3 separate regions of the Homo sapiens genome follow, and all the other regions are linked to region 2. Evidence: fine-mapped expression QTL. A gene starts in region 2. Each other region holds a variant in brackets. All regions are shown on one strand. Distances are from middle to middle.

The links. PIP is the estimated chance that this variant, and not a neighbour inherited with it, causes the effect.
Region 1: its variant is the best candidate, but not a certain one, in a credible set for the expression of THSD4 in gastroesophageal junction (GTEx, PIP 0.52).
Region 3: its variant is the best candidate, but not a certain one, in a credible set for the expression of THSD4 in testis (GTEx, PIP 0.54).

The regions. Positions count from the first base shown.
Region 1 is chr15:71,311,010-71,321,207 of GRCh38, forward strand. The region is part of intron 6 of THSD4 (thrombospondin type 1 domain containing 4); the gene reads left to right. Among named protein-coding and RNA genes, the nearest start is that of THSD4-AS1, 130 kb to the left of the region's middle. The variant G/C (reference allele first, on the strand shown) is at 5,958.
Region 2 is chr15:71,110,577-71,120,774 of GRCh38, forward strand. It overlaps THSD4 (thrombospondin type 1 domain containing 4), which reads left to right and starts at 4,895. Exons shown (of 18, transcript NM_024817.3): 1 at 4,895-5,122. CT62 (cancer/testis associated 62) reads right to left here and starts at 4,928. Exons shown (of 4, transcript NR_168260.1): 1 at 4,348-4,928; 2 at 3,055-3,187; 3 at 1,572-1,718; 4 at 1-850. RefSeq lists silencers at 4,709-4,758, 4,795-4,972, 4,819-4,878, 4,909-5,048, 5,199-5,288 and an enhancer at 9,505-10,021.
Region 3 is chr15:71,256,766-71,266,963 of GRCh38, forward strand. The region is part of intron 6 of THSD4 (thrombospondin type 1 domain containing 4); the gene reads left to right. It overlaps LOC105370884 (a long non-coding RNA gene), which reads right to left and starts at 6,245. Exons shown (of 3, transcript XR_001751791.2): 1 at 6,088-6,245; 2 at 1,241-1,296; 3 at 472-557. The variant T/C (reference allele first, on the strand shown) is at 4,483.

The DNA.
Region 1 (10,198 bases), 200 kb after region 2:
CAAAATAAAGTGACTTAAACATGACAGAAGTGGATTAAAAGTGGCTGTGCTCCACACAGTCCTCAGGGCCTGGAGCCTTCCAATTTCTTAACTTCTATCCCTTGGGTTTGGTCCTAATTTTAACATTCCAAGAGGCCGTCAAAGTTCTAACCATCGTATTTCAATTTCAAGAGGCAGGATAGAGAATAAAAAGGGAGGACAATGAGCAAAGGACATAGACCTGCTGTTTGTTAACATAGATTTCCAGGGAGTTGTCATAGGCCACCTCTACTTATATTGCATTGGCCAGAAGTGCACCCCAGTGGCAACACCTAGCTTCAAGGAAGGCCTAGAAATGTCATCTTAGAAGGGGATAGCCATGAGCTCAGCTAAAAAGTCTATTGTTTTGGAAGATAATGGGTTTTGGAAGACATCCGACATTCTCTGGCATGGGTGCACCATTTGAACAGCTTTTAGAATCCAGCCTCTTCCAAGGCATTTTTTGAACTAATTAGAAGAGTGCTGTGCTCCCTGCCCCTCTTTGTCTGATCCCGGGGTTTCATGGTGCAGTTGCTGCTTCACTTTCTAACTGTGCACTGATCCTTGCCTTCTGCTTCCACATGTCCTCTTTCTAGACTTACAGATGACAAACCTAGCATTATATGTTGATATCATGTTTCCCTTTTATCCTTGTGTATCATATAATAAAATCTGTTTTCACCTGGGTAAATGGCACCACCATCTACCCATTGCTCAAGCCAAATGCTTGGGAGTCATCCTGAAGAGCGGCCTTTCTCTCGTCACTCCTCTTCAGTCTGTTAGCAGGTCCTGTCTTCTTTTCTTCCCATGACCTATATCTGTCCTCCTCTTTCCACCTCCATGCTGTCACCCTAGTGCGTACCCCATTGTCTCCAGCTGGGCAGCTGCAGCCACCCTCATACCTGGCCTCTGGCTTTCCCTCCTGCCAACCCCTCCCCATAGCCCGTGCTCCACACAGCACTGAAGGCAGTTATCTTTTGTGACACTGTCCTACTGCAGACCCTCCGTGGCCTTCCTGTTGTGCTTTGGAAAAATCCAGAGTTCTCTTTGTTTCCCTGCCCTCTGTTCTGGACTGTATAGTGCTCCCCTCAAATTCATGTTGAGTCCTAGCTTCCAGTACCTCAGATTGTAACTGTATTTGGAGATAAGACCTTTAAAGAGGTAATTGAGGCCGTCTGTAATCCCAGCTACTAGGGAGGCTGAGGCAGGAGAATCGCTGGAAACCGGGAGGCAGAGGTTGCAGTAAGCTGAGATCGTACCACTGCACTCCAGTCTGGGTGACAGAGCAAGACTCTGTCTCGAGGCAGGGGGTGGAGTGGGGAGTGGGGGGAGGGTAATTGAGTTAAAATGAGGCTGCCAGGGTGGGTCTTAACCTAATCTGACTATTGTGCTTTTAAGAAGAGGAGATTAGGACATACAGAGACACCAGGGCTGCATATGCACATCTGTGAGCTGAGGAGAGAGGCCTCGGAGGAAACGAGTCCTGCAGGCACCTTGATCTTGGACTTCCAGCCTCCAGAACTGAGAAAATAAATTTCTATTATTTAAGCCACCCACTCTGTGATATTTCATTACGGCAGCCCTAGAAAACTCCTCTAACCTGCCAAGCCACACATGATCATATAACCTGCCAAGCCACACATGATCAGTTACCTCTGGCCTCATACCTTCCTCTGCCTTTTCTCACTCCACTCTAGCACGACTCGGGCTCCCACTCCCCACTTCCCCACCACCCCACAGGACCTTTGCACTTGCTCTTTGTGCTTCTGGGAATGTTCTGACCCCCAGATCTTCCTATGGCTTCCTCCTCATTATTCAGGCCTCTCTTCTGATTGTCCCTCCCTGCAAGAGACCTTCACTGTCATACCTCACCACTCAAGTATCTGAAACTTTTGGAGTTGGTTTACTTATTGCCCTAGAATGAAAGCTCTGCGAGAGCAGGGACTTCCTCTGTCTTGTTCACTGCCACGTCTTCACTCGCTAGAACAGTGCCTGGCATATAACGGCACTTAATGAGTGTTCATTGGAATGAATGAGTAGATGTATGATAAAATTAAGGTTTTTTTCCTATGTGTTTATTTATATCAGTATCATTTATTTATTGATATCAGTATGGACCCATGGATATTTATTTTATACTTTGGGCTACAGTTCACTTCTACTTTATTTATTTATTGCTCAAGTTATTCAAGCCTTAGTCACTGAATTTAGTTGGCCCCTGGTATCCCTTTGGCACAACCCCGTCATTCTGTGTGTGTACATGCATGTGCTCACATATGTGTGTGTGTGCATGTGTTCAGTATTTCCTTACTCTCTGGCACTACAAGATGCTCCAGGTTCATGTTGGACATTCCCTGCCCCAGTTATCAAATCAGCCATTTCTTCAAGGAGCTCTGGTACTTTTGTATTTTATTTTTTGATATTTTTATTTTGGGGGAATAACACACACTGGAGCTTGCTGAGGGAGGGTCGGGGGAGAGCATTAGGACACACAGCTAATGCATGCTGGGCTTAATACCTAGGTGATGGGTTGATAGGTGCAGCAAACCACCATGGCACACGTTTACCTATGTAAAATTAGTTTCAATATATAGACAATTTCAAAATCTTAAAAATAATGCTTTGAGGGAAGGAGAGACTCTTTTCGTAAAAGTGTTTCTTAGGAGAAGCATGTCATTTTTTACTTTTTGATTTTTTCATACTTACCCCTCCCCAGAAGCAGCGGACCTCCTAGCTGTGTCTCGCGGTCTCCCTCCATCTCCGCAGGTTTGTACCGACTGGGGGCTCTCCGTAGCTTTCATGCCATTGCTGGTATCATTACTGGCATCAATTGTTCCTGTTAGAATGAGGGCTTAGGTAGTTAGAAAAAAACACAGCATGGGCTCCTACTAACAAAAGCAGATTAAAGCCATCTTTTCAGTTAATTAGTTCCAATGCTCTGATACGGATGATGAGGCATAGGAAGGCTTTTATTGGAGGAATTCTTCTGTCCAGAGGGGCTTTGAAAGCAAATGTGCTGAAAGTCCTGCGGCTTTTCTCAGTGGTTTGAGAATGTTTATCCTAAGAAGTGTTTCTCAGTGAGTTGGAAAAGATCATTTTAGCCATATGATTATAGCCTTTTTTAAAGGTTTAATAGTTACAGTTTACTGAGAAAGAGGTTGAATTATATCTTGATTTTTTTTTCTCTTTTGTTTGATTTAGGCTGAAGGAACTTATCTCAAAACTTAGCCTGGTAATATTAATTTTGATAAGTTACTATAAGAAAATATTATATTTTTATTCTTTTTTTTAATTATTGGCGGCGGAGTCTCACTCTGTCACCCAGGCTGGAGTGTAGTGGCTGGTCTCAGCTCACTGCAACCTCTGACTCCTGGGTCCAAGCGATTCTCCTGCCTCAGCCTCCCAGGTAGCTGGGATTACAGGTGCACACTACCACGCGCAGCTAATTATTGTATATTTAGTGGAGATGGGGTTTCACCATGTTGGCCAGGCTGGTCTTGAACTCCTGACCTCTGATGGTCCATCTGTCTCGGCCTCCCAAAGGGCTGGGATTACAGGCATGAGCCACCCACTGTGCCTGGCCATTTTTATTCTTTTAAAAGAGAAAAGTACTTGTGCTTTCAGCCTCAGAGAAACCATGCCTACAACATAATCTTATTATTTGTATCACAAAGTTGTGATCCAAGTATTGCCACACCTTGGTTCAGTGTGCTGTAGTGCAGGTTAGATATTTTGGATGCTAAATACACCTCTTGTAGCAGGTTTTAAATTTCTGCAACAGACTCAAAGAGAACCATTACTTTAAAAATATTTCTATTTTAAACAAATGTAACTTAGTATGTCTTATTTTCAAAGACAGTAGAATATAAACTTACACTGTCAAGTATTCTTATACTTTCACTCTCTTATCTAGTTTAAAACAGTTTTCTGGGGATAATTTTTCTAAAGATTCAGGCTCATAGTTAATTCAAGCTCCAGGGCTATTTTCCACCTGGGGTTCTCTGCCTCCTGCCCCCACTCCCCCAGGATGACCTCTGCAATCAGGAATATGTTGATGGCAGTGGTAACAGGGAGGACTATTAGAACACTCTCTGCCCTCTGGGTCCTTGTTGGCATCCTAGAGGTGCCCTTTGTCCTCCCAGCATGGCCTGGGCTGCCTGCCTTCATCTCTCCTCATCTCTGGCTGATATACCTGCATTCACCTGTGCTCTGGGCTGGCTCTAACTGTGCAACTGGTGACCATCCCTGCCTTGGCTTTCAGCCAGTCTGTATCCTTCTTGCCCAAAACCTGGACTTTTAATTGTCCACAGACCCCCTTCACACTTTTATTATGACACTGAGCCTTGCATGAACTGGTTCACCTCTCTCTAGGCTGTGGGAAACCAGGGAGATATTTCAAAGCCTGCATGACACTCCGTCTTCTCTACTCCACCATGGCCACCTCTTGTTAATGTAGGGCACACAGCGGGTGGTCTTCTCCCAGAATTCCAAATGGGAAGGAAAGCACCCAGGATAGGAGGTCAGCTGTGTCCTCTGTGGTCAGTCCTCCAGGCTCCGCCTCCTTGAAACCAACAAATATATTTTTATTTTCTTTTGAACAAAGCCTGATTACTGTTACTGAGGTGGCGGCGGGGAGGCTTTGTTTGCAGATAAATCTCTAGACCAGGGATTTAGAAAACACTATTTTAAACTTCAAGGATTAGGAATGACTCCCTTGTTCAAAGTTGTATCTGTCCTTGCTGTGAAGGAGGATGTAGATGCTTCAGTTTCAGGAGGTGGAGAGATTTGGGGAAATAGGAGCACAAGGAATAAAAATATATCAGATTGTATTTCACCAACACAAAAAAAATTGTCCTTCTATATTCTTAGTAGTAGAATCTACTGATTAATAACAAATGACTATATATATAGCCTCATCCTCAAAAGTGAATGTAGGATGACTTTCAAATTAGAAGTCAAGGTGAATGAGAGGTAAAATAGAAATTACAGAGGAAATCTTAGTAAGACTTTTGGGTTCACTGGGTATGAGCAGAGTAAGGAGTTGGGGATAACTTCAAAGTTATCCCTGTTAGCCTGTATGGAAATCTGCTTGCAAAACAGGCTCTTGGCTATGACTGAAGTTACACACCACTTGATTCAGCTGAAACAGTCATTTATGTCTGTTGCCATTCCTGTCCTCTCTTCTGGTCTTCATTCTCACATCTCCAACTTCTGCTAAACAGCCCCTCCTTTATATAACTCAGCTTGACTTCAAATTAAGTACATCTAAACCTAAACCCATCTTTTCAAAACAGGTAGACATTGACAAACCTTAACCCCCCTGCTCCAACCAAGGGGTTACATTAAGACGATACTGGTGGGACATCTTCAGTCACCTATTTTACAATCTTGAAGTTATCCACAAGGCATGATGGTGACTGGCCCACTTTTGTGGAATTGGTAGGCCAAGCACAAGTCTACCTTTGTTTAGGGTGAGTGATACAAAATTGTCACTCTACAGAGTTCTAGGTGTCATTTGGCTCCTTAAATATACTACACACCAACCTAGGCCTTAGGCCCATTGCTGCTAGGGAGGGGTACCCATCATGCTTTCAGGCCTGGCTTAGTGGCTGAAGGCCTAGATACAACTGAACCTGGGGCAAGCTTCCTCAGTTCCAGCAGCTGACCAGAGTGGGGCTCCCTGGACCTGGGAAAGGCTGGGCCCCCAACAAGCAGCAGGGTCTGGCTGGAAGATTTATGTTCCAAGCATCTCAGTGGAGTTCTGAGAACACAAATGTAATGGATCTTAGGGCCGAAATCTGAGGACTGAGCCCATGTTGGGAAAATACCAAAGTATTATACTTTGTAGTTATCAGTGGGACCTAATAAACCATTGTCAATGCTGACATTTATATTTTCATGTGACACAAAATGAGCCATGGGAACTGCCTTTCAAGGTT[G/C]CTTAGAAAGTGGTTGGCAGAGCCTGAAGTTTTAAAAAGATTGGGTGGGATATAAATGTTTAGACAAATTAGATTGCCTAAGTGTTTGCTTTGTATAATAATAGTCTGAATAAACTGCTAAGGGAGAATTTTCAGAGCTGGATATTGGTGTTTAAAATAGTCAACATACAAGTGACTAAGCCTCCACTCCCTTAACCTCTGAAACATATTTGTGATGGAGAGCATTAGAAGTGAGGAGTAGCCATAAAAGGAAAAAGGTTGTCGTCTTCTGTGAACCCATTTCTGTGTACACAGGGTAGAATGTTTTTGAAGATGGTGTATTAGTCCATTCTCACCCTGCTAATAAAGACATACCCAAGGCTGGTAATTTGTAAAGAAAAAGAGGTTTAATGGATTCACTGTTCCACATGGCTATGGAGGCTTCACAGTAATGGCAGAAGGTGATGGAGGAGCAGAGGCATGTCTTACATGGTGGCAGGCAAGAGAGCATGTGCAGGGGAACTCCCCTTTTATAAAACCATCAAATCTCATGAGACTTATTCACTATCATGAGAACAGCAGGGGAAAAACACACCCCCATGATTCAGGTAACTTTCACTAGGTCCCTCCCATGATATATGGAAGTTATTACAATTGAAGGTAAGATTTGGGTGGGGACAGAGAGCCAAACCATATCAGATGGCAAAATGTACCCTTTGGGAAGTTCGTTTTTTCACATGATTCCAAGGAAGAGGCTGCCTGTGTAGGGGGACAGTGGGATAGTTGAGGACTGGGAATGGTCTGGCTTCAAATCCTGGATCTATCACTTAGTATTGACATTTGACAAATTACTCAGCCTCTTCCAGGTTTATTTTCCACATCTGTAAACATGGAGAAATTCATAATACCTACCTTCATAGAATTCTCATGGCATTAAATGAGATACACTACCTAACGCAGTTGATTAGCAAATGCCTGGTATTTGGTCGGGGCTGAGTAAGTATCAGTGTCCCTTGAGATCCTCACTGCTGTTTTATTAGGTGAGGAGGTGGTGGAGCTTAGAATTTATATGCCCAGGAGGATGGTGCTTCTTGCCCAACACCCACCTACCAGTGGCTTTTGGGGGGCAGTAGGGAAGGGAGGAAGGATTCAGGGAGCATGGAGTTACTTGTTCCTAATCTGCTTGGTCCGCCTTTGAGGGAAGTTTATGAAGAACAGTCCCACTTCCTTCCCAGGAGGCATGCCATGAGCCAGAGATAAGGCAGTGAATTTGGGAAGACAGAGATTCAAGACAACTGAGCCTCCAAAGTCACCACAGACTAGGAGAGAGGCAGCATGGATGGCCCCCAGAATGAAGGCCGAGGATGTCAGGGGTGGAGACAGACAGAGAGCCAGGGAATGGCACTAGGCATAGGATGGAGCATGGTTTGAAGTGGAGTTAGTTTGGTGTTTTCTACACCTGGGACATTTGTTCCTTTACCACACTGAGAGATGGAATCTTAGTGGGAAGGAACCACTATTTGTCTTTTACTCATTAAGTTCCTAGCCCAGCATAAAGGCTCCTGGAATAAGTATCCTAATGGGAAAAGCTAAAGCCTCTTGGAGGCACTCAGGGTTTGGCCACAGTCATTGATGGTTCAAGAGTTGTTAAGGTGATTCAGACCAACACAAACCAGGGGCCTGTAGCTGAGGCTGGGACTCAGCCCATCAGCAATCAGAAGGGCCAGAACCACACTGGATCATTTCATTCTGGGTTGGAAATGACTGGAATAAAGATCCTAGGGGAAGCAGGAGCAATGAATCTAAGACTTAGAACAGAAGGAGCACAGACACCCAGGTTACCTGAAGAAGAGTCAGATGATGCCAAGTGTGAACCTGAGAGGCAGGAGGGCTGGGGAGGCAGAGTACAGCAGTGGAGAGAACACTGAGCTGAGAGCGGGAGCCCTGGCCCTGGGTGCAGTACGATTCTCCTAGCTTGGGGTTTAGCTTTGGATAATTTGTTTTATTTCTCAGAGTTTCAGTTTCCTCAGTTTCAAAATGAGGATGATCATGCCTTAGGTCATAATGTTGATTAATGGCAGAACTTGATTTAGAACCAGATCTCCTGGAAGTAACAATTACTTGTGCTGGACATTGGTGCTTGCAAAATACTTCTCTTAAGTGATCACATTTGATGACATTTGTTTCAGGCCTGTTTCAAGCACACCATAATCAGGACTGAGCACCTTAGGACACTCCTGGTATGTCTAATCAGGGAAATGGGGAACACCACAATGTTGACATCAAGGATTCTAAAGTCTATTATTATTATTATACTTTAAGTTCTAGGGTACATGTGCACAACGTGCAGGTTTGTTACATATGTATACATGTGCCATGTTGGTGTGCTGTACCCATTAACTCGTCATTTACATTAGGTATTTCTCCTAATGCTATCCCTCCCCCCTCCCCCTTCCCCCCACCCCACAACAGGTCCCAGTGAGTGATGTTCCCTGCCCTGTGTCGAAGTGTTCTCACTGTTCAATTCCCACCTGTCAGTGAGAACATGCGGTGTTCAGTTTTCTGTCCTTGTGATAGTTTGCTCAGAATGATGGTTTCCAGCTTCATCCATGTTGCTACAAAGGACATGAATTCATCCTTTTTTATGGCTGCATAGTATTCCATGGTGTATATGTGCCACATTTTCTTAATCCAGTCTATCATTGATGGACATTTGGGTTAGTTCCAAGTCTTTGCTATTGTGAATAGTGCTGCAATAAACATACGTGTGCATGTGTCTTTATAGCATGTGTTTTTCTTTGTTCTGATTCTGAATTGCCCTGTTGGTGGTGCTGCCCTGTTAAAAGTCAGTTAGGATGGCCCTGAATGTGAGTTTTGCTAGGCTATTAATGACCGTTTATTTGGCCAACAAGTGTTACAAACACGTGATTAAGCAAAGGTAAGCAAATTCTTTATTACAGGAGTTCTCAGAGCTCTTACTGTACTGACATGAATTATAAATCTTTAAAAGGACGGTATGGTAACTAGACTCCAGCAAAAGGGTCATAGAACCATTTTTAAATTGGTGGTTGTTGTTAGATCTCTTGGCACTAACATTCTTGAAAATATGCTTGGGGAAATGCTAACTCAGAAATTAACGTTTGCTGAACCCAGAGTCCACTGGGTTACCCCTAGGTGAACTTCTAGTTCCCGAAGTTGGCCTTTGGATGAGTCATCTTCCCCCATCAGGTTCAACTATGTGAGGATCATTCTGCAGTCACTCATGATAACCATTTCTCAGTTTAATGGTACAATTCCATATTGCCTTACATTTTATATAAGTTGTAAGCTCATAAAACATCTTTGTATATTTGGAATGTACTAAAGACTGCAAGTTAACCCAGACTAAAACAACCTCAAAGTTATTTGCAATCTTCTGAACATCTCCATATTACAGCAACTGCCCTTCTCACGAGCAGGTCCATTTTCCTTTTTTGATGAGGATACTAGCTTCTGGCAAGCTGAACTCTCCTTTGGATCACAAACTTTCCTTCTCCTAAAGGTCCCAGATGTTACTAAGATTTAAAATAGGTCAGCTCACATTTTTGGCCTTTTCATACAACATAGCCCACGTTAGATTGGTAAAGAGACAGATAACACATAGAAAAAAAGATCCAAGTAGCCCAAGAAAGCCTGTTCCTGGAACGTGATCAAACTTTTTGCTCCATCCATACCTTTCCTCACAAAAGCTTTTTCAAAAATGTGGGACTCGCACTGCTTGTCCCTTGATTTTAGTGGAACCAAGAAACCGCATCAAATAACACTGAATCCTAGAATGAGAAAGTCATTCCTTTTTCAGTTCTCTTTCAACTCCAGACATCTTTTTTTTTCAACATCAAGGAAGATGTTATGCTAGTTATGTCTTTAACAGTTCTCAAATTGAGCTAGTCTTCAATTGTGTCTAGCTAGGATTTAATAACATGGTTTCATTTTCTTTTGTATTTATTTTACTATAACTTTTTATCCATGGAAAGTGATGTAGCTTTTCCATATTCCATGGCAAGATAAGATTCGTTTTGAAAATAAACGTTAAAACATTTAAACAGAGTATATTGTGAAGATTAGAACTGCTGTCATAACAGCTGCCCTGTAACCTTCTAAGGTTGACCCAAAACACATGATTCCCCGTTTTATAGATGTATCAGCTGAGACTAGCAGAGATGAAATGACTGCCTCAGTGATGTGCCAGTTATTTGACTGAAATAACCAGAGCTGGACCTAAG
Region 2 (10,198 bases):
CTACTTCTTCCACCCTGGGAACACTGGGCCTCCCCAAGGCCTCCAGGACAGCAGCGGGCTCCAGGGCCTGCTCTAGCCAGTGTCCTGTATCTGCTCTCTTTTGTGGACTCTGAAGCCACACAGCCCTTCTGCTCCTGGAGAGTCCCCTGCCTTCCTCAGGGTCTTTGCAAAGGTGTTTCCTTCTGTCTAGAACAGTCTCCCACGCTGTCCCCTTTGACTTTGGGTGACTTTTCTCATCCTTCCTTTAGTCGTTCATAGTTGGCTTCAATAAATGAAGGATAGACGGGAAAGTGACTGATCAGCCATGCTTGAGAAGAGGAGGCCCTGGGCGTATGCCGTAGATCTCCATTGTCTAGGCCTAGTTAATCATCGCCGGAAGAAGAAAGGGAGGCTGTGGACTGGAGGCTGCCAGCCCCGCCTTCTCCTTCTGTCTGCATGTCCTAAGGAGAAGCAGCCTCGGATCCGGGTGATGCCTCTTGGCTGTGAGTATTATCATTTGCAAAGAGGAAAAGGGGAAATAATCTGAATATCTGGGATTCCAAAAGTTGTCTTGTACCAGGTAACAAGAACCTTCCTATCTCCTCTGACCAGATGTGGGGTGAGAAAGAGGATGAGAGCAAGTGTGAAGCAGAAAAGGGAAAGAGAAGGAGATAACCTGAAGTGTGGCCTGAAGACTCCCTGACACTTCATGGGAATCCTTGACATTCCGTCTGGAAACCATTTTGCTCATGTCCTCAGAGCTGTGGCTGCAGAATTTTCTCTTGCCCAGTTGTGGGTTACAGGTCAAGTAGAGAGTCAGCCCCAGGCAAGGGCACAGGAACTCAGACTGTAGGTCAGCATTCCAGAGTTCCTGGAGGAGGAAGAAAAAGGACTGGGTTAAGGAGGCAAGCAGGGGAGGGAATCTACCCTGAGATTTTTAGAAACAGCTCAAAATAACAGCAAGTTGACCAACTCTCAAAGTGTTTTGTTTTGTTTACCATGCCTCCCTTATTTTCTTATTATTTGCTGGGCACAGGCTTGCCTTGACTTTACAGTCTGCATAAGTTTACAACCAGGAAAATGAAAGGAACAATTTTACAAGCATCGTGATGGATCCTGGTACCTCCTTCAGAGCTTGAAATTAGGGGTTTGAATGTAGGTCCATTTTCATCCCACTTCCAAATGCTAGCAACGTAGGGAATTATACGGGGGTTTCCTTTCCTGCTGGGACACAATTCTCTGAAGCACAGTTAGGATGAAAACACGAGGTTTGTAAGAGCTGAGAGCAGTGTTTTTCAAAGTGCAATTTTCAGAACTCTAGGCCCAAGAGATGTTTCGCTGGTAAAAGGATTCCACGTCAAATACATTTGGGACACTCTGCATCATCTCTCCCCTCTCAGGCAATCTCAGTGCTTATAAGTAAGAAAACTGTGTTCCCCATAAGTTTCCCCCCAAAGGGTCCAGCTGTCCTGCATTGCCTTCCTGTAATCTGTTCACACGTTGCTCTTATTCCAGTTCCACATGCCCTGAACTCCCAGAAGGTTGCTCTCAGCAGTGAGCCATTCATTCCTCAGAGATTTGGGAGCCCTCACCACGTGCAGACGCTGTGCTGCAGGCTGGGAACCACAGGAGAAATGGCTGAATGTTCTGTGGGTGTGGCTGTAGGCAGAGGGCTGATCAGTGAGGTGGGGTGGTGACAGTCTTCTATAGGATGTCGTATGCATCATTTATCAACTTAACTAGGACAAGAGAATGAAGGGGGGTACTATTAATAATTAATTAATAATTATAATAGGACAACAGGTGTAAGCTAGAGCTGTCTTACATAGACAGAACTGACACATGACAGAAGAGTTATGTTTCTTGTCTGTCCCTTTAGGAGCTGCCTCTAGGGCCAGTGGATAATAATTACAGGGCAAAAGGTTTCAAGTCAAAATTAAAAGGGAATTTCTAACAAAGAGCCTCTAAGAACAATGTGGCTATTTTATGAGGTAGTGAGTAGCTCACCACATCAGATATGCAAAGGGGTGACCCACCCTCCAAGATGCTGTGTATAGCTGACACTGACATGCCAGGCAGGCCCCCAGCCTAGGTAAGCACAGGCTAGCCTTTGACTGTGATCTGAAGCACATATTCTTGGCTCTCTCTTTCGGTGAGGGTCAGTAAGCTATTTTATATGCAAGGACCACATTCTGCTCTTCTGATTCATACGTGACAGACACATTTGGATAAAAGCAGAAATATAACAGGACTGAAAGATTAAAACTTGCTGTCTTAGCATACTTAATATTCACTGATGCTTACACATAATGTAAATATCTCTTTGTTTAAAATGAGTATAGGCTGGTCTCTGTGGCTCACGCCTGTAATCTCAGCACTTTGGGAGGCCAAGAACGGAGGATCACTTGAGCTCAGGAGTTTGAGACCAGCCTGGGCAACACAGCAATACCTCCTTTCTACTAAAAATAAAAAATGAAAAAAAAATTAGTCAAATGTGGTGGCGCACGCCTGTAGTCTCAGCTACCTGGGAGGCCGCAGTGAGAGGATTGCTTGAGCCCAGGAGGTGGAGCCTGCAGTGAGCTGCAATCATGCCACTGCACCCCAGCCTGGGTGACAGAGCAAGACACTCTCTCAAAATAAATAAACAAATAAAACAAGTATTATCTTGACTTTAAAGAAAGAGACTTTCTTGTGACATATAAGCAAAATATGGTCAAAACAATTTGACCAAGGTTGAAAATGGACTGGAATCACTTCTAAGGAGCCAGCCTAGGTCTGTCGAATCAAGTTTGCTCACTAATAATCATACTTTGGTTATGTCGGATGTTAACATTAGAGGAAGAGGGTGGGGGATATAAGGGGATTCTTTGTACTATTTGTGAAACTTGTCTAAAATTATTTCAAAATTAAAAAATAACAAACAAAACCACATCCTTTGCTCCTGAGCCCTGTTCGCCCCAGACATTATGTGATGAACTCACTCCGTTCTTTAAGATCCAGCTCTGCAGAGCATCTCAGATTCCCTGTCCTGAGGCAGGTACTCCTGTATGAGCTCTTAAATACTTCTGCATTTACCTACCACCTACTGGTATGGTTTTCTGACTATATTTCATCTTCTTCGCCTCACGTGGAGTTTCTTTTAGAATGGAAAGTTTTCTTCCTTTCCTCTTTGAATCCTAGCACCAAGGCCACACTCGGCACTGAATACCTGTCTCGAATGAATGAATAAATCAATCTTGTTTGAACAAATCTTATTAGTTTTGCTTTTTTAAAATTATGGTAAAATGTACATAACATAAAAATTTCCATTTTAACCATTTTTAAGTGTATAATTCAGTGACATTAAGTACATTCTAAAGTTGCGCAGGTTTTTTTTTTTAAATCAGTTCTAAATGGTTTAAACTGGCCAGTATTTACTAGAGCTGTTAGATCGACTTAATTTGGACCCATGAGACTCGTGACACTCAGAATTAATCTAATCCCATTTACACCAGGTGCCTCCCATCAAAATCTGTTTGATCAAGTGTGGAATTATTTCATCCCATTGGAACCAGCTCTTGAATCAATCAGAACTGGCTCTGCCAGGCTCCGGGCCAGTAGTCGGTGCTCAAAATGGTGTTTCTTTCTTTGGCCTAATCTCTTGAGTAGCCTCTTTCCCTTTTGTTAATTTTTTTTTTTTTCTGGAGGACAATCTTCCCTGGGAGCTCCCTTCTGCTCCCACGAAGCGCTCTGCACCCAGCCCTGGTGCTGCCTGGCTCTGGGGCAGGGAGCTTGCATTCTGCCACCTCCTTCATTGTCCTCTCGGTATACCTGCACTTTCAAAACAACCCCTGCAGGCAAGCTTTAGAGGCAGCGATAAACAAACAGGCTGACTGAAATTTAGGGAAACGCCTGTATCTGGACAGCCTCTTCAAATATTTGTCACCCCCTCCCTGCTCTGGGGAAAGAAGAGACAGTTCCTCACAGTCACTCTATTTCCTGCCTTCCCAGCTCTGAACACCTTGGCTCGAATGTAAAGAATTTGGCTCTGAATTAGGACTCAAGAAACGGGGCCCTAGCAATTTTCCCTCCATTAACTAAACGCGTCACTTTGGTCATGCCCTTTTGGGGGCAATAATTTCCCAATTCGTAAAATGAAGGGATCAAAGTTTGATTTTTATCATTACTAATGAGAAGAATTATTATTTTTTTGCAGCAGGCTTTTTTTTCCCCAACAAAATATTACTCTGAATAAGACAAGAAAGAATCCCGAACGGCTCTGGCCGTCAGGGTGTGTGTGTCTCCTCCCCATGCTGTCTAACCCCCGTTGGAATTTGGAGGGCTCTTGTCCTTTCCCCTTGGCCTCAGAAGGAGCCCAGCGCGTCCTACCTTGCGTGGGAGTGTGTGTGTGACCAGGGCTCCTTCCTGCCCTTAGAGTCACCGCCCCCTTCTCGCACAGGTTTACAGCACCACTTGCCTCGCCCACTCCCCGCTTTGCCTCCGCCCCATCCTGATGCTGCCGGAATGGCTGTTCCAAATGGAAGGATGCCCGCGTCCGTCCCCTGCCCCAGTCCTTCAACAGGTCCCCACAGACCTCAGGATAAGATGAACGCGGAATTCAGGGCCTGGTCTCAACCGCCCTCTCCCTTTTCCTCTCACTTAGACGACCCTGGCCAGCTGGGCCACTCTCCACTCTCGCCCCCTCCCGCCCTCGTGGCCTCTGTCTAGACCGTACTCCCTCCTACTGGGTGATGTCTCTTCCCCTGGGACCCAGGGACCATCCCGTTGTTGACCTCCGGGGTCAGGGGTGCGGATGGGGGCCGGCCCTTCCCGCGGTCGCCGCCAGGGGGCGGCAGGAGCGGCTCCAGATGACAGCGGGAGGCCGCAAGAGGGGAGGGAGGAAGGACCGAGGGAGCGCGGATCCCGCTCTCGGATCGCAAACTCTGAGCCAGAGCTCTCCGCGCGCGCCTGAACCGCTGGCCGCCCGCGCAGCCCGACGCGGAATCGGGGCACAGCGGGAGCCCGTGCAGGGCGGGCGCGGGGCGGCTGGGCGGCGGTGGCGGCCGTCCATGCGGCGGCGCTCGGGGCTGCCCGGCGCCGGGAACCACGCGGGGGCGAGGCGAGGCGAGGCGGCCGCCGGTCGCTCCGGGACGCGGACCGCCAGGTGAGCAGAGCCGCGCGCCCCGCGTCCCCTGCGCGCCGCCCGCGCGGCCCCGACCCGGCTTCCGCTGCCCAGGCTCCGGCTCCCGCTCTCTGGCCGGCGGGGCGGGCTGGCGCGGGCTACCCAGTGGGTGTGTCCGGGGCGCCGCGGGCTGCGCCGCTCCGGGCTCGGGGAGCCAGCGCGCGCCTGGTCCGTGCGGACGGCTGCGCCTCCTTCTCTGGTTCTCTTCCTTGCTGGGAGTCTTGCTCTGTGCTGGCGCCGGCGCTCATCCCTCCACCCTCGACTCTAGGGACAGTCTTAAACTCTAGGGACAATCCACCTCAGTCGTCCCCGGGTCGGGGCCCCGTGCTCCCCGGGTCGGGTCGGAGGGGACCGGCGAGTGCACACCCAGCCCGTGCGCCCCCCACCTCAGCCTCGCCTCCCTCCCGCCTGGGGCCCGAGAGCCGGGCAAGTCTCGGTCAGCGCTCCTTGAGTCCTGGCCTGGGGCCTCGGATCTGTGTGTCTGTCTGTCTCAGTTTAGTTGCTGCAACCCAGCGAGCGCCTGGAGCCCGAGTGGATGGGTTGTTTCCGCCAACTCTGGACACTTCCTCAAGTGCAGCCTAAGTACCTGCGGCCCCTTGGCGCACTTACAGAAGTAGCTTTTGCACAGCGAGCTCACCTTGGAGCTCTACAGATCTGGAAGTTAAGTTTTCTTTTTATTTGAAATAACATCAGCCCTCACTTGGGAAGGGGATTTTAGGGCGTTCTCGGGCCCACCTAAGTATCTGGAATTTGTGGTCTAGTAAGTTTTTTAAGCAGTCCGCACCCAGCACCGTACCTCCCAGCCTCCTTTGCCGTCTTACTAAAAGTGCATGCTTGCTTCTCTTCCTGTCTCCTTTGCGATCTCTACCACGCTGCGCTTCGCCCTTTTCGGGCTATGAGTCTAAAGCTTGGACGTGGGTAGCAATCATTGGATGCCTGTTGGAATTTGGAATTAGAGAAATAGATACCCGAGAGAGATCTAAGGAATCGCCTTGTCCAACCCTCCTTTCACAGTTGGAGGCACCCAGGACCCCTGACAGTCTGAAGATTTTTCAAGGATCACACAGCTTTTAAAATCCGCGTGTCTTCTACTTGATTAATATTGTTGGAGGTGATGGAGTAACTGGGCTTACTAGGGTCTTACTGGGTCTCAATATACAAAGAAGCAAACATTTTAAAAATGTGACTTAAAATACGGAACTCTTCAATTCCTATAGATTTTTGTTGGCATCATAGTTGAATTCCTTTAGAAAACAAAATCCTAGCCCTGAAATTAATGTGAGGAAGCAAGCAGATGGGCGTCCTGGGACTTTCCTATAAATCTCTGCAGGGCTGGAGCAGGGATTTCCCAGAGGTCTGGGCCTGGGAAATGAGTTTGGGTGATCAGGATACTGGAGCCCCTTCTGAATAAGCAACTGGGTTGGTTTCTTGTGGGGAGGCTGGCCAGTGGAACTCATGTGATCTCCTCTGTGCCCAGCACTGGGCGGGGCACCAGCTTGGCATTACCTTCTTTTTAGTCTCCTATGCCATAAAGAAATATTTCTTACTGGCTGTTAGCGAAAGAAAAATACAGCCCAGAGTTTGGGAGGAAGATCAGGGGTGGGGAGATTTTTGACTTGGAGTTTGTTTTTGTTTTTGCCTCGAAAAACTTGTGGAGATTGCAATCAGTTATCCTACACAGAGGCTGTGTATTGCCGTCTTCTCCATCCCCCACATTTCTCTCCATGGTACCACTTTTATCCTAATTGCTGGGAGTCTCAATGTTTAAATGTTCCCAACACTCCCATTCTGTCCCCCACATTTATAGCTCATTCATCGCAAAATCTCTTCCACATTCTTTTGTGATATCTGAGGAATTATTTACCTGTCTCCATTCCCACTGCCCCCACCTTCAACCATGTCCAAATTACAGTAATAATCTCCCCTCTTGACTCCCAGCCACGAGTTGCTTTCTTCATTTTAATCCATCTTCTTTCATGCTGATAGATTAATATTTCTGAAATTCTGATTTCACCACATCATTTCTCTCAAGAAATCACAATGGCTCCCCAGTATTCACTTCTATTTAATTTATCTCCAACAGATATTTCTGAGCGTCTGCTATGTGCCAGGGACTGTTACTATGTGCCAGGGACTGTTACTATGTGCTGGAGCTTACGCTATGAACAAGACAATATCATTGCCTTCAGGGAGTCCACAGGCTAGCAGATGATAAATAACCACCCAGGGGAGAAAGGGAAGTAAAGAAATAACCGCAATACAAGGGGGATGTGCAAAACATCAAGGAGATGCGAATGAGGGAGAAATTGATTCTGCATGGGAGGAGCTAGGGCAGTTACCACTGGGCTTTGAAGCCTAAGGAGGAGTTCAAGGAGATGGGAAAGGCTGGTGGGGAGGGAGGACAGGCCAAGCAGAGGAAAGAGCTCGAGGAAAGACTGAAAGATAGGAAAGTACTGTATGGACACGGTTGAATCCAGGTTACTTTTCATCAGGGCATTTAAAATGTTTCCTAATCCCAGTCTACTTTATTGATCCAAGAGCCATCCCAACGCCTTCCTGCTTGAAGGCCATCCCTCCACTCACCCAGTCTCTATCATGGTCTTATCTGCCCTCCCCACACCTCCCATCCCCAGCTCAGAAATTCAGATTTCCCCTCTTCTGATCTAAATTTTGCCAGGCAGTGTATCCCACCCAGCCTTTCTTGCACACACTCCTGTGTCTCTTCCCTGCATTCTTTGTGCCTGCTCTATGTTCAGCCTGGATGAGCCTCGCCTCCCCAGCCACTCTGAGGTTTCCCCCGAGCAGCCTCCTTGGGCCTCTCCAGGTCATGGAACACACTGTCCTCATGTTAGTGGCCCCAGCACACTTGAAAGCACATGACTATTTGCCTGGGTTTGACCCCTCATCTCACTTTTCTCTTCTCTCTCCTCTTCTTTCTGGTTTTCCCATCTTTTTCTTTGCGTGTGTATGCAGAATCGTGATGTTTACTTATGCGCAGATATAAAGGTTTCATGTGTATTTGTTGAATATCCTCGCTGTGAAAATGGATTAAAAATGTTATGCTGGAAGCCAACACATGATGCAGGCTGACGCAGGTGAGGAGAAGATTCAGGGGAAGCTCTGGCTTTAGGCTGCTTTGCTGCCTCTGGCCCCCTCTTGGGATCCCCCAATTTTACTCCTCCTCCGCAGGACCGCTGTGCTGAGGCTGGGACACCCCTTCATCATCTAGGCCTGTTTTGCTCTCTTTTCCTCCTCCTGTCAAAACTTACTTCTGTGCCCACAGCCTCGCTGGCTTGTTAGCCTCACTGGGGCCATGCTTAGTGAGCACTGGTGTGTGCAATGCTTGGGGCTTTCAGTGGTTTCTCTTTTAATCCTCCCAGCCACCTAGAAGGGAGACATCAGCATCTGCCTTGTACAGGAAGAAAGTTGAGGCTTACTTGCCTGAGGTCAGCAGCTCAGGTTTGGAGCTGAAATCTTAAACCCAGCTCTCTAAATCTGGTGTTCTTTCCACTATATCATTATTTCCTGAAACAGTTGTCTTAGGAACATCTGAATCAAAATTCAGATCTGGTGAAAGAAAACACAGGCTCCAGGGTGGAAGCAGGGCTCGAGAACTGGCGTTTTTAAGATTACCTCAGGCGATTCTTCCGCACACCCAGGTTTGGGGACCACTGCCCTGGGCTTCCTTTACAATGTGGTTCTAGCGACAGGTGGTGGGTTAATACGCCACTTTATCCCAGGCAGCATGTTCCTTTTTGACAGAGGCCCTGACTTTGACTCTAAGGAGTGAGCAATGGAGAGTTGTGGCCAAGGCCAGGAAGAGGGTCCTCTCTTTTGGCCCGAGGGGTCTTTAGTTCAGTCCTGAAGGCCCAGCCCCCTCAGCTTACTCGAAGGCATGTAAACCCACCTGCCACCAGACTCACTGTGAATTTCTTTTGGGACCTGAGCGAGTGCTCAGGGAGAAAGACCAGGGTGGGTTTGTTCAAGAGCCCCAAGTTGCTTGGTTTGGGACCCCCCGAATAGGGCTGGACAGGCAAAGCCAGCCCCTTCCTCCCTGCAGGCACGGTGAGTTGAACCTCCTTTCCCAGAATGGGATCTGGCCGTTGACAGATCTCTTTCATTCAACTGGCCTTGCTCCACTTCCTACCCACCCAGCCTCAGTTTCCCCATGTGTAACAAGAGGATGGCCAAAGTCTGGAGGGCTGGTGGGGGACCAGTGCATGGGTATGCAGAGCTTAAGGCAAAGCCCTAAGGCACATAGCAGGCGCTCAGTGTTAGTTCTCGCCCCATTTCTTTACTCTGTGCCTGATCAGTGCTTGAGACAATTGGAGCTCAATGTATTGCTGTAACAAAAATGTATATGTAATCTCAGGCCCCCTCAAATCCAGGGTTTTGTGTCTGAAGGGCACAGGGCTGAATGTTACAACTGTGTATTCAAACCCAGCAAATGAACACTCCCAGCTGCGCGGTGATAGTAATAATGAATTACCCATCCAACATCCCTGCTCGCCCCACTCCCCTTCCCCAGCTTCCCTTTAGATTGCCCAAAGAAGAACCCATGGAACAAGAGGCAGCAGTTTTGTGTATTGATGCGTTGTCTTGGGAAAGTGGTCTCTTTCTGTTGACCTCTTTTCCTGTCTACCCCGTCACCCAGCTGAGTGTACTGCCTATGTTGTCTTCTCCTACCAGCCTTTCCGAAGCTGATCACTGAGGTGTCATCCCAGGCATTGGCGCCCATTAGCCCTGCTTCTCTAGGGCGTGGTCCGAGGGCAGTGAGCCAGGTTCACAGTGCCGCTGTGTCTTGTCCCAGGAGGGTGGCACTGGGCACCCCACAACCGGGTGGGCAGCATGTGGCCTGCTCCACCCTCCTGGCCCTTGGCCAGCTGCCTAAGGCCTGGCCAGCAGTGAGGACAAAAGCACGGAGTGATTAATGGGCACCCCATCTAATCTCCTGCCAGGGGAAATGAAGGGCCAGCCATGGGCTGGGAGCTCGTCATGACCTGCTCCAGGTGGGCTTGGAATGCACCCAGCTCAGGATGGGGATTAAGGCTTGAAAGA
Region 3 (10,198 bases), 150 kb after region 2:
ATTCTTGTTGACTTCTGATTGATGTTGGAGGTATTGGTGTGATCCTGGCTGGGGTGTCAATAGGGGAGAAAGTGTGACTCCAGGGCAAAGAGAAGCCTGCATGGGTCTTTACCAAAGGTAGCATAGCTCAGGTGACGCCTGGACCATCTTCGGCATGAGTCAGATGGATGAGGCACTGATGGAAACAAGCAACATCCAAGGATGGCAGGGTGAGGGGGACAGAACAGGGTTCAAGGAATCAGTTGGAGAAGAGGTTCAAACATAAAGTTGTGAGCCGTGAGTGCAGATGGAGTTTCCCTTTCCTTGGTTCCTGCTACAAGGGGTAGTATGGGAGCTTAAGAGAACATGTGGGGTTGTACAGTTGTATGGTTCTCACCTGTAGGGGGCCTCACATGCTGATTCCAAAGATAATAGTAGGCAGGCATTGCCCGTGAGTACAAGATCCCCGTCATTTCCAGATGACAGAAGATCCAGAGTTGGTAGAGCAAGTTGATCCCACTCTGCATGCTGGAGTCACTTTTCTTTGTTGAAATCCAGATGATAACATGGCTTGCGGACTGAGAAGTTTTAACATTCTGAGATATTTCTACCCACCCCTGGAGAAAGTGGGCTCAGAAGAGGTGTTGGGTCAAGCAGAATTTGTGGGGGTTCTATGCTCACAGCCAAGTTGGCTGGAGAGGGAGTCCAGCTGCCTTCAGGGCCCAGTGGAAGAGCTCTGCCCAGCCAGCCCTTCTCAGCTTCAGCCCGAGGCAGTGGCTGGACAGCTAAGGTTGGCCAAGACCCAGAGTATGGAGCACTGCACAATGTGCAGGATCTGGAGAAATTGCCTTGGAAGAGGGATTGATAGTGAGTTGTGATGATTTTATTGCAGAATCAATGCCTGGGGAAGCCAAACTGTGCAAGGTGGTTCTATACTTAGAGGCCCTTGGGGAGGAGGGAAGTGGATTAGTATCTGACTGCTCTGAAATTGGATGCTAAATTGTTTTTATCTGTGCAGTGTTCTCAGAGACTCCATAGCTTCTATTAGATTCTCAGAGTGGTCCCATGACCTCAAAATTGTTAAGAACTAACTTGACTGAAAAATTGAGACTATCAAATTCAAGCAGGAAGGATGTACAGAGGAAACATAGAGCTAGCTGAGTGCACATACAACGGGTGGGGAACAGGGTGAAGGGTGAGCAAAAGAAGGATGCCAAAGTGAAATTTTGATTTGATTCTGTGGATAGAGCTTGGTTCTGACCTTTTTCATTTTTAAGGGCATTATGTTAAATTTAAGGTGGTATCCTGATTTGGATCCTGAAACAGAAAAAGGGCATTGTTGGAAAACCTAGTGAAATAGGCATAAATTGTATAGTTTAGTTAATAGTATTGTACCAGCGTTAATGTCTTAGTTTTTATAAATTGTTTGTTTTTTGTTTTTGTTTTGTTTTTGAGGTGGAGTCTTGCACTATTGCCCAGGCTGGAGTGCGGTGGCGTGATCTCAGCTCACTGCAACCTCTGCCTCCCAGGTTCAAGCGATTCTCCTGCCTTAGCCTCCCGAGTAGCTGGGATTACAGGTGTGCAACACTACGCCTGGCTAATTTTTGTATTTTTAGTAGAGGCAGGGTTTTGCCATGATGGCCAGGCTGACCTCGAACTCCTGATCTCAAGTGATCCACCCGCCTCAGCCTCCCAAAGTACTGGGATTACAGACGTGAGCCACCGCACCCAGCCTGTAAATGGTTTTGTAACATGTTAACATTATGCGAAGCTGGGTAAAGAAAGGGTATACAGGAACTTTTGTACTATCTTTGTAACTTTCCTGTAAATCTAAAATGATTTCAAAATAAAACGTCTTGAAGGCATTGTACTCCCAATTAGCTATGTCTTACATGGATTCTGGTGAAGACAAAGTGTAATACTCACTTAATATGGGTGAGGAAGAGTGCACTGGGTTAAATACTGCCCCCACCCACCACCCAAATTGGTATTCTTCCTGGAACCTTAGAATGTGACCTTATTTGGAAATAGAGTCATTGCAGATGTAATCAGTTATGTTGAGTTCATATTGGAGTAGAGTGGGCTCTTAATCTGGAATGACTTGTGTTCTGATAAGAGGAGAAAGTTGGGAGGCCAAGGCAGGTGGATCACCTGAGGTCGGGAGTTCAAGACCAGCCTGACCAACATGGAGAACCCCGTCTCTGCTAAAAAATAGAAAATCAGCCTGGCGTGGTGGTGCATGCCTGTAATCCCAGCTACTTGGGAGGCTGAGGCAGGAGAATCGCTTGAACCTGGGAAGCGGAGGTTGTGGTGAGCTGAGATCACGCCATTGCACTGCAGCCTGGACAACAAGAGTGCAACTCCGTCTCAAAAAAAAACAAAAAACAAAAAAAAAGAAGAGGAGAAAGGACACAGACATACAGGGAGTATGCCAAGTGATGATGAAGACAGAGATTGGAGTGATGCTTCTACAAGGTAACAACAAGGACTGCTGGCAGCCACCAAGAGCTAGGCAGAGACAAGGAAGCATCCTTGCCTAGAGCCTTCAAAGTGGGCGTGGTCCTGCCAACACCTTGATTTTGGACTGCCAGCCTCTAGAACTGTGAGAATAAATTTCTCTTGTTTGAAGTCATCAAGGTTATGGTATTTTGTCATGCAGCTCTAGGAAACTAATACAAAGAAGAAGGAACAAGGTTCTGGATTGATTGAGATCTACTCGCTAGAGTAGATCCAGAGGTGAGTTTGCTCCAGCTGATAGTAGCAGATGCCTTAGAGAAGTGAGGCATGTATCCAAAGTGAGCAACTGCCTCAACTGGCTCACAGATGTAGGTCTGTCCAGCACAGTGGTTCTCAGCCCTGGTTGCTCTTCAGAATCACTGAGGAGCCTCCTAGAGACACTGATGCCTAGACCCCTCCCCAGCGATTGTGATTTAATTGGTCTGGGATGCAGTCTGAACATCAGGATTTCTTAAAGATCCCAGGTGATTCTTATGGGTAGCTAGGGTAGAGAACCTCTCATCTAAGAGGGGATGACTCAGCCTACATTGAGGGACAGAATCATGGGTATTTGATAAATCCTGAAATACATTCTTGTGTCAGAACAACAATGCTTTCCAGTGAACATTTAGAGAAGAAGTGACCCTGTCTTTTGTCTGAGCTGCACCCTTGCTTTATGGCTGGCTGTGGATAATAGCTGCTTTATTGTGATTACCTGGGGGGAAAGATGAATTCCACACTACACTGAGCAGTGTGCGTTCTGTAATTTCCCCAGGAGCAGAAGCTGCCTTGCCAGACCTTTTCTGCGTGGTCTGAGGTGGCCATCAGCCAGCTGTTGTTGTCTAAGACCTTGAGGTCTGGTAGATGCAGGTCTAATATTGATAGCCCTATGCAAACCACAAAGAAAACTTTGCTAATGTTTTCATGTATTACATGTGAATGCCTGCTGTTGTCTGGCTTATGTATGGGTCTACTTTTTCTGTTATTTTTTTCCCCTCTGATTTGTGCTAGACTTTAAGACCTGGAAGAACTTATTTTTTGAACATTTGATTTAACTGATTTTTTGGAAAATTTCAAACATAGGTAAAAGTAGGGAGAATAGTATAATAGTGTGATAAGCTCCTATGTACCCACTTAATTCCATTAGTTATCAGCCCATGACCAATCTTTTTCACAAATATTTCCATCCTCTCTCTCCCACCCAGATTATGGGAAACTGCTTGAATTCACATTACAGAGCATTATTCATTGGTGGATATATTAATTGGAACTCTTGGTTGTAAGTGACAGAAACCCAAACTAAATACATTTTGATCAGAAAGGTATTTTGTTGGTCATGTTACTGGGAAATGCAAGAGGTGGCCTGGGATTCAAATGTGGCTGCATTCCAGGGAATCAGTAACATTAGGACCCTGCCTTTCTCATCTTTCTCCATCTCTAGGTTCTGTTTACTTCTGTCTCGGGCAGGCGAGAAGGCTTACCATGGGTTTGAGCTTGCAATCATACTGGGAGGGACTCTCTCACCTGGTCTTGAGGGCTGAATTGCACCCCCAAAAAGATTTATTAAAGGTACCCCTAGGCCAGGTGCGGTGGCTCACGCCTGTAATCCCAGCACTTTGGGAGGCTGAGGCAGGTTGATCACCTGAGGTCGGGAGTTCGAGACCAGCCTGACCAACGTGGTGAAACCCCATCTCTACTGAAAATAGAAAAAATTACCTGGGTTTGGTGGCACATGCCTGTAATCCCAGCTACGCAGGAGGCTGAGGCAGGAGAATCACTTGAACCCAGGAGGCAGAGGTTGCGGTGAGCCGAGATGGCACCATTGCACTCCAGCCTACCCCTGGTACCTGTGATGTAACCTTCTTTGGAAAGAGGGTCTTTGCAGATCTAATTAAGATATAAGTTTAGATGAGGTCACAGTAGAGTAGAATAGGCCCTAATCCATTGTGACTGGGGACCCACACAGAGAGCACCATGGGAAGACACAGACAGGGGGAAGACAGCCCA[T/C]GTGAAGGCAGAGGCAGAGACTAAAGTGATGCAGCTATGAGCCTAGGAACGCCAAGGATTGCCAGCAACTTCCAGAAACCAGGAAAATGCGTGGAAGGATCCTTCCTCCAGAGACTTTGGAGGGAGAGTGACCCTACCAACACATTGATTTTGGATTTCTGGCCTCCAGAACTGTGAGAGAATACATTTCTCTTGTTTGTGTTCAACAGGACGCCAACCAGTTTGTGTGATATATTACATCAGTCCTAGGAAACTAATATACCTAGTGACTGTTCCAATCCCAGACAAACTATACCATGGTCTTGTTTGGATCCTGTTCCCATCCCTGGAACCTAGTTTGGGGGATGGGGTACTTGGGTTAGCTCAGGTCATGTGACCAACCCTATGGTAGGGGACCCACATCGCATGAAGAGGAGATAGGGAAGTGGGGATTGAGACAGACAGGAAAACATTCTTCTACCAAAATCAGTGCATACTTCTTTACTGGAAGCCACTGAGATGTTGAATCAACTAATTAGCATCCTAATGTGGATTAATCAGCTATCCTTTACCATGTGTTACTAGAAAATAATGCAGTCTTTTAAAATGGTCACTGACATTGATATTTTTCACATGCCTAGAAGGAGAGAGGAAGCCTATGGTCACTGAAGTTGAGTTTACTTTGGCTTTGTTTAAATAATTCTTTTTGCTGCTAAGATTGTTTTCTTGATTTTATCCTTCCTCCTCTTAAATGGCTCCCAGGCTGACCGGCGGGAGGAAGACACTGCTAATGCTTCTGCAGGGCTTTACGGCTGGATTTTGCATCGGGCTCTTGGTTTTGTTTGGATGTCTACTGCTATTCACATGTGCCTACTTAGGGAAACAGCTGCGCTCATTCAGTGCAATGCCACATAGAATAGTAAAAGCGGAGTATACTCTCTGATAAACACATTAATTTTACCAGATGGTTCTTCTTAAGCCTTTAATTGCATTTCCTGGATTTGGTGACCTATCCTTAGATAATGCCTCCAGGAATTTTTCTCATAGCCTGGGACCTATTACTGTAAAGATGGCAAAAGTGGAATTAGGGTGCCCGTGCATCCCAGTTCACCCAGGACAGTGATAGTTTATGCCTGTCGTCCCAGTCCCCTTTCACTCTCTGTCTTGGACAATAAATATATATGTCCATTACACCGAGCATGGGCAGTTTCATAGGAAGCCACTTGTTTAGGTGCTGAGATTGGAGCAAATTCTACCTGTTTTCATGCCAAGGGTAATGGGGCTGCAGCATGAGACTGGAGTTTTGCTGGGTTGCTATAGGCTATAGGGCATCAGATATCAGTTTTAATCCTTAAAACTGCTAGGGGGCAGCTTTATGTTTGGGTAGCTTGAGTGCACTGTGTGTCCCTGAGAGCTGAACTAAAGAGTGGCAACTGAAAAGCCAGAGGGGAGGCTGAGTCAGAAAGTGAAGGTCGCCAACTGGTGACATGAACAGTGATTGTATCTGTCAGCAGTGGCTGGCTTATGTTACAGTAACAAATAACCCCCAGATCCAAATGACTTAACATGACAAAAGCTTGCCTGCTGTTCACCTTCCACGTGTAAGGGTGGGTGTATTTTGCTTACCTGGGGACCCAGGCTGGTAGAAGCTGTATCTCAACTCATGATTTCACTGAGGCAGGGAAAGGGAACAAGTGACCTAGGCTCAAATTCTTTGTTTTTGTTTTTTTTTTTCTAACTTTTATTTTAAGTTCAGCGGTACATGTGCAGGATGTACAGGTTTATTACATAGGCAAACGTGTCATGGGGGGTTGTTATACAGATTATTTCATCACCCAGTTATTCAGCTTAGTAATCCATTAGTTATTTTTCCTGACCTTCTCCCTCCTCCCAGTCTCTGCCCTCTGATAGGCTCCAGTGTGTGTTGTTCCCCTGTCTGTGTCCATGTGTTCTCTTCATTTAGCTCCCACTTATAAGTGAGAATATGCAGTATTTGGTTTTCTGTTCCTGAATTAGTTTGCTGGGGATAATGGCCTCCAGCTCCATCCGTGTCCCTGCAAAGGACATAATCTCATTCTTTTTTATGGCTGCATAGTATTCCATGGTATATATATATATATACGACATTTTCTTTATCAAGTTTATCATTGATGGGCATTTAGGTTGATTCCATGTCTTTACTATTGTGAATAGTGCCAATGAAAGAACATACATGCATATGTTCATAATGCATGCATGTGTCTTTATAATAGAATGATTTATATTCCTTTGGGTATGTACCCAGAAATGGGATTGCTGGGCTGAATGGTATTTCTGTCTCTAAGTCTTTGAGGAATTGCCACAGTGTCTTCCACAATGGGTGAACTAATTTACACTCCCACCAACAGTGTATAAGTGTTCCTTTTTCTCCACAACCTTGCCAGCATCTTGTTATTTTTGACTTAATGATAGCCAGCCATACAGACTCAGGTTCTTAAAGCTTCAATTAGAATTGATCCACATTGTTTCTGCTCACATCTCATTGGCCAAAGCAAGTCACAAATCACACCTAACTTCCAAGGGGGAAGGGAGGTACCCTCCCACTATGTGCTCAAAGGAGGAGAAATGGAATATCTGTGGCTGGCCCTAGTGACTAGCAGGCAGGAAGCTCCAGTGAAATTCCCTGAATGCCTTCCTCGTTAAGTCCAGGTGACTTTTATTAGGTTGTTTGCAAGAATAGTAGATGTTGCTCCAGGGAATATTAAAGGTGCCACCACACAGTCTGATATCCACAGAGCCCTGAGCCACTTCAGTCAAGATCTACCCCTTGCGTGCTTCTGACTCCTCCACCAATCCAGCAGTCTGCCCCAACACAGACGCCATGGTGGGGCATGATGGGGCAGGGGGCGCTGTCAGATAAAAACATAGACAATATTATCAGAACTGTAAGATATGAGGGAGGGAGGCTTGTGACTAAGTGCTGGTGGACCTGGAATTAGAGTGTTCGTGTTTTACTGAAGCGGCTTTATTCATAGGCACTCTCATTCCCGCAGCCCACCCCTGTGCATAGATAATCCATAATCCTGTGAATGTTCAGAGTGGAAGGGGCAGACCTTAGAGAAATGAGAGGCGGTTTCTATTTCACTGGGAGTGGATCTGGAATGCTCCCCACAAGATCCATTCTCAGAGCTCTCTTTTACATGCCAGGGGATACCTGGCAAGACTAGGCCATGTTTGCTTTGGGGATGAGCATATCATTGAGGACAAAGCCCAGAGGGCAACCTCTTTGTGAAAACAAAATGATGATTTTGGTTTTGTATATGTTGAGTCTGAATGAATGGTGGGACCCAACAGGAGGTTAGGGATGCAAGGTTCTGAAGTTTAGGGAGATATCTTAGGGTTGTAGACCCATACTTGCAGTCATCAACCTTGGTGAGATTAGTGGATAAGACCTTCAAGAAAATGTAGAATAACAAAATGGATTTTACAAGGACCAGGAAATGAGCTTTGGAGTATGTTACATTAAGGAAGCAGGGGAAAGAGTCTCAGCCATTAAAGGACACTGAGAAGGTGATCCAGGTATAGGAGAGGCACCAAGGCATTATCATCCCATGTATCATTTCTTATGTTAATAAAGCTTATTGTGGTTTATAAAGTTCTGCTAATACACACAGCACAATGAATGCTATGGACTAAATGTTTATGTCTGTCTAAAATTCATAAGTTAGAGCCCTAACCCCCAGCGTATTTGAAGATGGGGACTCTAAGGAACTAATTAAGATTAAATGAGGTCTTAAGGGCAGGGCCCTGATCTGATAGGATTAGTGTTCTTATAAGAGGAACACTAATATTACCTGGGGACCCAGGCCGATAGAAGCTGTATCTCAACTCATGCTTTCACTGAGGCAGGGAAAGGACACCAGTGTTCCTAGTGGAACACTAACAGTGGTGGCTGGCAAGATGGTCAAGTAGAAACGGCTCCGGTCTGCAGCTCCCAGCAAGATCAATGCAGAAGGCAGGTGATTTCTGCATTTCCAACTGAGGTACCCAGCTTATCACACTGGGACTGGTTAGACAGTAGGTACAGCCCACGGAGGCTGAGCTGAAGCAGGGTGGGGCTCTGCATCACCCAGGAAGCACAAGGGGTTGGGGAACTCCCTCCCCGAGTCAAGGGAAGCCGTGAGAGACTGTGCCTTGAGGAATGGTGCACTCTAGCCCAGATACTACGCTTTTGCCGTGGTCTTTGCAACCTGCAGACTAGGAGATTCCCTCGGGTGCCTACACCACCAGGGCCCTGGGTTTCAAGCACAAAACTGGGTGGTCATTTGGGCAGACACCAAGCTAGCTGCAGGAGTTTTTTTTTCGTACCCCAGTGGCGCCTGGAATGCCAGTGAGACAAAACTGTTCACTCCCCTGGAAAGGGGGCTGAAGCCAGGGAGCCAAGTGGTCTAGCTCAGCAGGTCCCACCCCCACGGAGCCCAGGAAGCTAAGATCCACTGGCTTGAAATTCTCGCTGCGCGCACAGCAGTCTGAAGTCGACCTTAGACGCTTGAGCTTTGTGGGGGGGGAGGGGCATCTGCCATTACTGAGGCTTGAGTAGTTAGTTTTCCCCTCACAATGTAAACAAAGCCGCCAGGAAGTTCAAACTCGGCAGAGCCCACCGCAGCTCGGGAAAGTCACTGTAACCAGACTGCCTCTCTAGATTCCTCCTCACTGGGCAGGGCATCTCTGAAGGAAAGGTAACAGCCCCATTCAGGGGCTTACAGACAAAATCCCCATCTCCCTGGGACAGACCGCCTGGGGGAAGGGGCGGATGTGAGCGCAGCTTCAGCAGACTTAAACATTCCTGCCTGCTGGCTCTGAAGAGAGCAGCGGATCTCCCATCACAGCGCTCAAGCTCTGGTAAGGGACAGACTGCCTCCTCAAGTGGGTCCCTGACCCCTGTGCCTTCTGACTGGGAGACACCTCTCAGCAGGGGTTGACAGACACCTCATACAGGAGAGCGCCGGCTGGCATCTAGTGGGGGTCCCTCTGGGACAAAGCTTCCAGAGGAAGGAACAGGAAGCAATCTTTGCTGTTCTTCAGCCTCTGCTGGTGATACCTAGGCAAACAGGATCTGGAGTGGACCTCCAACAAACTCCAGCAGACCTGCAGCAGAGGGGCCTGACTGTTAGAAGGAAAACCAACAAACAGAAAGGAATAGCATCAACATCAACAAAAAGGACGTCCACGCAAAAACCACATATGAAGGTCACCAACATCAAAGAACAAAGGTAGATAAACCCACAAAGATGAGGAAAAATCAGTGCAAAAAGGCTGAAAATTCCAAAAACCAGAGGCCTCTTTTCCTCCAAAGGATCACAGCTCCTTGCCAGCAAGGGAACAAAACTGAACAGAGAATGAGTTTGATGAATTGACAGAAGTAGGCTTCAGAAGGTGGGTAATAACAAACTCCTCCAAGCTAAAGGAGCATGTTCTAACCCAATGGAAGGAAGCCAAGAACCTTGAAAAAAGGTTAGAGGAATTGCTAACTAGAATAACCAGTTTAGAGAAGAATATAAGTGACCTGATGGAGCTGAAAACCACAGCACAAGAACTTCATGAAGCATATACAAGTATCAATAGCTGAATTGATCAAGCAGAAGAAAGGATGTCAGAGATTGAAGATCAACTTAATGAAATTACAGCGTGAAGACAAGATTAGAGAAAAAAGAATGAAAAGGAATGAACAAAGCCTCCAAGAAATATGGGACTATAT